2 linked regions of the Homo sapiens genome follow. The protein of the gene in region 1 interacts with the protein of each later gene in a pairwise test. Each region holds a gene or a part of one and is shown in the gene's direction. Other genes may lie near its edges.

The links.
Region 2: the proteins of ABCF2 (region 1) and ANKRD28 interact in a two-hybrid assay, tested with the Homo sapiens proteins (one large-scale study listed by BioGRID).

The regions. Positions count from the first base shown.
Region 1 is NC_000007.14:151,220,527-151,224,346, reverse strand, and holds part of ABCF2 (ATP-binding cassette sub-family F member 2), read left to right. Parts: intron 1-232; coding exon 233-415; intron 416-497; coding exon 498-669; intron 670-1,730; coding exon 1,731-1,826; intron 1,827-2,666; coding exon 2,667-2,769; intron 2,770-3,820. Other genes in the region: ABCF2-H2BK1 (ABCF2-H2B protein), read left to right, coding at 233-415, 498-669, 1,731-1,826, 2,667-2,769.
Region 2 is NC_000003.12:15,686,242-15,690,061, reverse strand, and holds part of ANKRD28 (serine/threonine-protein phosphatase 6 regulatory ankyrin repeat subunit A), read left to right. Parts: coding exon 1-43; intron 44-173; exon of another isoform or gene 174-1,715; coding exon of another isoform or gene 1,716-1,751; intron 1,752-3,752; coding exon 3,753-3,820. UniProt on the Homo sapiens protein: Regulatory subunit of protein phosphatase 6 (PP6) that may be involved in the recognition of phosphoprotein substrates. Involved in the PP6-mediated dephosphorylation of NFKBIE opposing its degradation in response to TNF-alpha.

The DNA.
Region 1 (3,820 bases):
AAGCTGTGGTAAGTGAAAAAAGCTTCAGATAAGGGGTGGGGCAAGAATTGGAGGAAAGTTAGAAAGGAATCCCAAGAATGGGGGCTGGCAAGATTTGAACGAATGAAGGGAAGAAAGGTCCTCAAAAAAAAAAAAATGGATGAGGTCCCAGTTTGACTGGGGTGGAAGAACTAGTGGTGAAGAGGGATAGGGGAGTTCACTGTACCAAGCGTCTGCTGCTCTCCCCTCTCAGGAAAGTCCATGCTGCTCTCTGCTATTGGGAAGCGTGAAGTGCCCATCCCTGAGCACATCGACATCTACCATCTGACTCGAGAGATGCCCCCTAGTGACAAGACACCCTTGCATTGTGTGATGGAAGTCGACACAGAGCGGGCCATGCTGGAGAAAGAGGCAGAGCGGCTGGCTCATGAGGATGGTAGGGCTCCAGACCTGGGCATAGGGGTGGGCGTCCTCCCAGAAAGGCCCCCAGGAGCCTCATGGCCATACACTGTCCACAGCGGAGTGTGAGAAGCTCATGGAGCTCTACGAGCGCCTGGAGGAGCTGGATGCCGACAAGGCAGAGATGAGGGCCTCGCGGATCTTGCATGGACTGGGTTTCACACCTGCCATGCAGCGCAAGAAGCTAAAAGACTTCAGTGGGGGCTGGAGGATGAGGGTTGCCCTTGCCAGGTGAGTCCCTCCCTCCTTCCCTACCCCCATAACTCCCCCATCTCTCCAGTGTTTAGTGTTCACTCCAGTGGAACTGTTTGGAACAGGAGTCAGTGGTAAGTGTCAAATGAGACATGGACATCTGCAGTGTGGAGGGGGTTGTTGTGTATGGGCTAGAGAGAGAGCTTCCTGGCTGAAGTGGTAGAGTGACTCAGTTTTCTATTGGATTCTTAGCACCCAGCACAGAGTTTAGAGATCCTAGGGGTAGTCCTAGGTAAAACGGTGGAGTAGGTCTGTTTCTGTCCTCCCACCAGGATTCCCTTTCCACCCTTTTTGTACTCTAGTCCTGCTAATTCCAGCTGTAAAGATAAAATGTTAGACGGCTATTATGATAGCTGTCGTTCTTATTCTCTTGTGGCCTGGACTCAAAGTGAGTTTCCATAGACCAGCATTCCCCCAATAATCCCCCCAGAGTCACTAAACAGGTAATTCCTTGCCCCATCATTCTCTGTGAAGGGAATTTATAAGACTTGATATACTTCTCTAGAAAGTTGCCTGCATGTGCCTTAGAGTATAAGCACAGTGGTTCCACATGCTAGCAAGGATTAGCTGCCTCCGGTTCACCCAAGGAGCTTTTAAAAACACAGATTTCTGGTTTGGGAACCAGAGCTTTAGAGTCTATCCCTCGCTAGACTCTGGCCACCCCACAAGATAGGTCTATCTTCAGACCTTCAGATAGGTCTAATTTGTTTTAGCAGTTTATTTCCTCTGTATTTTTTTGTCTTCTCCGTAGTCTCCAACTTCAGTGCACAAGGCTCATAAACTCATAAAGACTTCTACAGCCTTGCCTCGAACTGTCCTTATATGCTTCTGAGCCCCGTATTCTACTCTTCAATCTCTTCTCTTCGACTCTTGTTTCTGTCCTGCTTCTCCTTTTCCCTCTGAGGTATAGAGCCTAAAATTGATTTCAAGACTCAAGCCAGGAGCCTACTCAGAATTGCATGTAGCAGGCAAGTTTGTCCCGTCCTGTGTCACATCCATTATAATTCTGAGGTGCTTCTGTCTCCTTTACCGTCCTTCAGAGCCCTCTTTATTCGGCCCTTCATGCTGCTCCTGGATGAGCCTACCAACCACCTGGACCTAGATGCTTGCGTGTGGTTGGAAGAAGAACTAAAAACGTAAGAGGGTGGAATGGGGGATGTGAGCGGGCAGGTCCCAAAGGGGGAATCTAGAAAATGGATGCCCAGAAACTGCACTGATGTTAGAGCGGTGAGAAAGGAACTGAAGGAAGGACAGAGTTCACTTTCTTGGACAAGCAGTGAGCACCTTTAGGGCTGTTGAAGGCTGGCCTTTTATTTTGATTGTTTTTCTTTAGTTTGAAATTTATGAGCTTTTTTTTTTAAAAAAAATCCTTGTTGGTTTTGTCCATATTTCAAATTCAAGATCTTAATTAAAGATATATTTTTTTTCTTAATTGTATAAAGCTAAAAAGAGGTCTTCCATCTAAGATCATGATGCAGTGACAAAGGAAAATATAGCCAATATGGTCATGGTCCTACAGCTAAAGAACTGAATAAGCTGGAATATTGTACCAATTTTAAAAGAAGGCTTTTAGTGGTACGATGACTTAGTACCTTCTTTCAAAAAGTAAAGCATTTTGTTTTTTATTGTGTCTGTACCAGTTCTTCCCACCCACAGTTTTGGATACATTCGTGGGTGTATTTGTGTACATACACACTTCTGGTTACTATCACTGTTACTACCGTCTCCATCCCATTCTGTTGAAAATTAGAACAGAAGATTGAGGAAACTCAGGCTGTCTCGCCACACTGAAAGGCGTCCAAATACCCTTACAGTTAGATTGTCGAGTCGTGGCTTAGGTGCTTGCTAACAGCCAGGAATTGGACAACACATCTAAAAGGTGCTTAGGGATGAGGATGGGCCTGACTTTCAGTTCACCTGTTGTCAGCTAGCTCCCATGGTTGAGCTCTTCACTAATTGGTTCTTTGGCTTTACAGTTTTAAGCGCATCTTGGTCCTCGTCTCCCATTCCCAGGATTTTCTGAATGGTGTCTGTACCAATATCATTCACATGCACAACAAGAAACTGAAGTATTATACGGTGAGTGGGCCTCGGCTTCTTCTGGTAATCTCTGTGCATACCAATTCTCTGAAATTCTCTTTAAAAAAAAAAAAAAAGGCTGGTGTGGTGGCTCATGCCTGTAATCCCAGCACTTTGGGAGGCCGAGGTGGGTGGGTCACTTGAGGTCAGGAGTTTGAGACCAGCCTGGCCAATATGGTGAAACCCTGTCTCTACTAAAAATACAAAAAAATTAGCCAGGCGTGGTGGCAGGTGCCTGTAGTCCCAGCTACTTGGGAAGCTGAGGCAGGAGAATCACTTGAACCCTGGAGGCGGAGGTTGCAGTGAGCTGAGATCACACCACTGCACTCCAGCCTGGGTGACAGAGCAAGACTCCATCTCAAAAAAAAAAAAAAAGCAGACCTATCTATTAGCTCCTTTCTACCTATTGCTATAAAAAGATATGGACAAGGAGTCCTACCACCTGTTTTATTTTAATCCCAAAGTCATTGCTTTCAGGCCATAGGCCATGGATTGGCAGCCTGTGCACACAAGGTGTATGTTTGCCTTGTGGCAAAGAAGTTGACTTTTCACGGTGACCAGGCAGGCCCTGCTCTCATCTGCCTTGCCTCTTTTTTTCTGGAAACAGAATCTCATTCCGTCACCCAGGCTGGCATGATCTCAGCTCACTGCAACCTCTACTTCCTGAATTCAAGCGATTCTTGTACCTCAGCCTTCTGAGTAGCTGGGACTACAGGCATGCACTGCCATGTCTGGCTAGTTTTTGTATTTTTAGTAGAGACGGGATTTTGCCATGTTGGCCAGGCTGGTCTTGAACTCTTGACTTCAGGTGATCTGCCCTCCTCAGCCTCCCAAAGTGCTGGGATAACAGGCATGAGCCACCACACGAGGCCTCCCTCTGCCTTCTTGAATGCCTTCTTAATTCTGCTTCACTGGAGTCTACACATTTACCCCACCTCCCATGACCACAGGAGAATGGGGGTCAGGATCTCAATAGCCCACTGTTGTGCCTTGCCTTTTCATTTTATATTTCAAAAAGCATGTAAGAAACTAACGATTGATGTCCTCTTCA
Region 2 (3,820 bases), on another chromosome or scaffold:
GTAAAAGATTACATTTTGAAGAGGACACCTATTCATGCAGCAGGTATGCCAGATATTATGCTTGATTTATTTATAACTTCTATCCAATACTTTTTTTCAATTTCTGATATATAATATTTCCAGTTAATTGTCTTTAAAATTTTGACCTTTTTTTTTTTCAAATCATATATGGATTATTTGACCTCACCAAATAACTTTATTCACACAAATGAATTTACAAAGCCTCCGTCATTCATAAACATTAGGAGTATCCCAGTGTTCAGGGAACTTAAATACAGTGTATTATATCAACCCAAGTAAACCAAGCACAAAAAATATTCATATAAAGTTGTTTACATGTAGGTCCTAGACTACCAGCTTCTGTGTGAAAAAGGAAATAAAAATAGATTTATTAACTAGTGTTTGAAACTAACTTTGTGCCTGGCTTAAAACCTCCCTCATGCTCCAGCCTGTCCCACACAAGTGTTTAAGAAGTCATTAAAACTGTCCTGCTCTCATGAAAAGAAGCTCCTCTGCACAAAAGATGTAAGTGCCCCCAAGTAGCTCCCTTCCTCCTGTGGCCTCTCTTGGAAAACAACCTTGGCAGCCTCCTTGCTGATACCTTCTGCAATTTTAGGGGCCCCTCAGGGGGCAGTGGCAGTGGATTCATCTTTTGATGATGGCTGCAGATGCTAACATTGGCCAATTCTATGTCACACCTACTGGTTACTCTTTGAAGGCATTTCTCCAGACAGAAGCCCCACTACCGTCAAAGCTTAGGTAGGGCAGGATCAGAGAGGCGCCTGTGTTGTTTTGAAGGTTGTGCTACAGCCTGGACTTATCTCTGGACTTCTCCCTCTAAAACCCAGTGGCCCAAAGAGCTGAAAAATGTCAGCTTGGCTCTTCAAAAGTTTCCAGACCCAAGGAGATTACCAAGAGCTACAACTGTCTGGGGAAATTTTTGACTTTAAGTGGTAAAATGATTGTATTCTCAGGGAATACCAACAACAAGACTATCATCACTTAAAACATTATCTGCCTTAGAAGTTGGGTTTATGTAATAATCTAACTTCTGAAACACTTTATCAACAAAACAATGCAGTATTTATTTCTTTCTGGTAGAAGTTATTTTGGATTGGTATAATCTTTCATTTAACAAGTGATACACGTTTTGACTTATTTTACCAGTGTACTGCATTAAACATTTATGCAGACAGGCTTTACAGAGCACTTTATGCAAGAACTATTCCATATTGTGATATTATGATGTAGCAGATACGTTAAAATACGAAGGTCTATAACCAAGTCAGTTAAATGACTTGCTACCCACTGCGTATCACTGGCAGATGCAGATTCACAACTCTCTATTTTTATAGAGTGATCCTTAAGAATACATTTGAATATATGTCTTGGATTTTTTTTCTAGTCCTTTGGGAAGCTTACATTTTAGAAGACTATTGATAACACCCACTGTTACTCCCAGAGCCGCCCTTCAAAGCTATCAGATGTTCAAGTGGGGCTGAGAAAAATATTTTAATAATACATTAGAACCTCTAATAAACATATATACACTACTATATGGTTTGAACAAGAGGTTAAAATGCATTACTTGCTGTTACCTTATTCTGAAAAAGAGTGAAGTTATATATCACTTTGCAAAGCCAAACTTGGTGGCGCATGCCTGTATTCCCACCTAACTTGGGAGGCTGAGGCAAGAGGGTCACTTGAGTTCAGTTTCATTGCACTCTAGGCAACATGATGAAACCCTGTTCCTAAAATATAAAATAAAAATCAATTTTGTACACTGGATGGGATCTGTGAAAAATAAGTACATTTTAAAAATATTAATCTATAGCTAGAAAAATTATAATTGCAGATCATATGCAGAACTAATTTAAAGCTTGCATGGAGTGGTTGCACTCTCAATAGGTAAATATTGAACTGAGACATTAGCCAGTCCCTTAGAAGTAGTTAACCAATGCCATATAGTTCAGCATAAATCCTACCCACAAAAAGAACCACAGGTTACTCTTAGTGCCTATCTATTCAATAAATGCAAGCCTTGTATCTATAGATGCCTTTCAAATTTGGAGGTCTATAGAGAGCATCTATAAGCCATGAAAAGAACACTGAGGGTTTTTTTTCCTGGAGGTTTACCAGTCATTTCCCACAGAGATGCTGTGCTTGCTGTTTGGGTATTGAACTTAGATGACACAAACATTCATCAGTAGCGACTGTGAACTGAGTGTAAATGAACTGATTTGAAAAATGATGGGCCAAACAAGTTCTTCTTGAACATCCCCAAGTGTTACGACCCTGTTTTTTGTTGCTAAGCTGTGAGAGCTGCTGGCAGAGTGCAGCATACAGATTGGACTAGGGTAGGAGAGGTGATTTAAGCCACAAGTTTAATAACTATTAGTATTTAATATAACTGTGGGAACATACTGTGGAATATTCAGCACCTAGCTTGCTTTTGCTAGTTTTGTCATCTTTTAATTAGAAGAAATAGTGATAGACGTTCTTTTCTGTATCATATGCAAGATACATTTTTTTCTAATGTATTTCTTTAAACTTCAGACTTTGTATATATTAACAGGACCTGAATTTTGCAGAGGATTTAACTTACTTCAAAAGCTCTTTTCTTTGGACTACTTCTACTTGTACCCTTGCCCATTTTATGCATTTGGACTTAACACATGCATTCTTTAGATGGATCATTTTTCTTGTACTGTATGTATATATATATATATCATTTGAAATTATTTCAGCCATAAATAACAGAGTACCCTACTGAAAATAGCTTAAGGGGTTTAGTGTCTCATATACAATGTCGAAAGGCAGGCTGGGCACGGTGGCTCATGCCTGTAATCCCAGCACTTTGGGAGGCCGAGGTGGGTGGATCATGAGGTCAGGAGTTCAAGACCAGCCATGCCTAGATGGTGAAACCTCATCTCTCCTAAAAATACAAAAAAAATCGCCGGGTGTGGTGGCAGGCGCCTGTAATCCCAGCTACTTGGGAGGCTGAGGCAGAGAATTGCTTGAACCCAGGAGGCGGAAGTTGCAGTGAGCCAAGATCACACCACTACACTCCAGCCTGGGCGACAGAGCGAGATTCTGTCTCAAAAAAAAAAAAAAAGCAATATCAGGCAGATGCAGTTCCAGGGTTGGTTGATTCTACAACGGTGTCAGAGCTCTGGATTAAATTCTGTTATTCTCTTACATTTGCATTCATGTTGTGGGATTATTGCTGCTGCTTTTAAGGATTGCATCTAAAATCAGGAAGGAATGGGGGCTTTTCATTATTAAAGATAAAAGTATTTCCCAGCAGCCTCTAGACTTATCGGCATCTCAGTAGTCAGACCTGGTTCCTGTGCTGCTCACCTTAAAACTGATCACTGTCAGAGGAGAATGGGGTTCTTGTGATTGACTTGGTCTAATCATGGTATCATCCCTTTGCTGGAGTCAAGGCACTCTTCCTGACCACATTGCCAGAGAGCTAAATAAAATGAGCATTCTTTTAGAGGCAGATGATAGGGCATGGGTGCTGGGTAGGCGGTCTGCCTGTCATGTTTTACTGTGAGGAATTCACATTTATTCCAGCTTTAACAGTCAAAGGCCGTAGAAACCTTCTTTTTACCTATAGTTTTCATTCTTGCATATTAAATTCAGTGCAACTATCCCAAAAGTAAATTCTAGAAGATGTGCTTTTAGATGGACATTTTCTATTTTATCATTATATGTAATTACTGAAATGTTTAAATTTCACTTTACAGCAACAAATGGTCATTCAGAATGCTTACGGCTATTAATAGGAAATGCAGAACCACAGAATGCAGTGGAT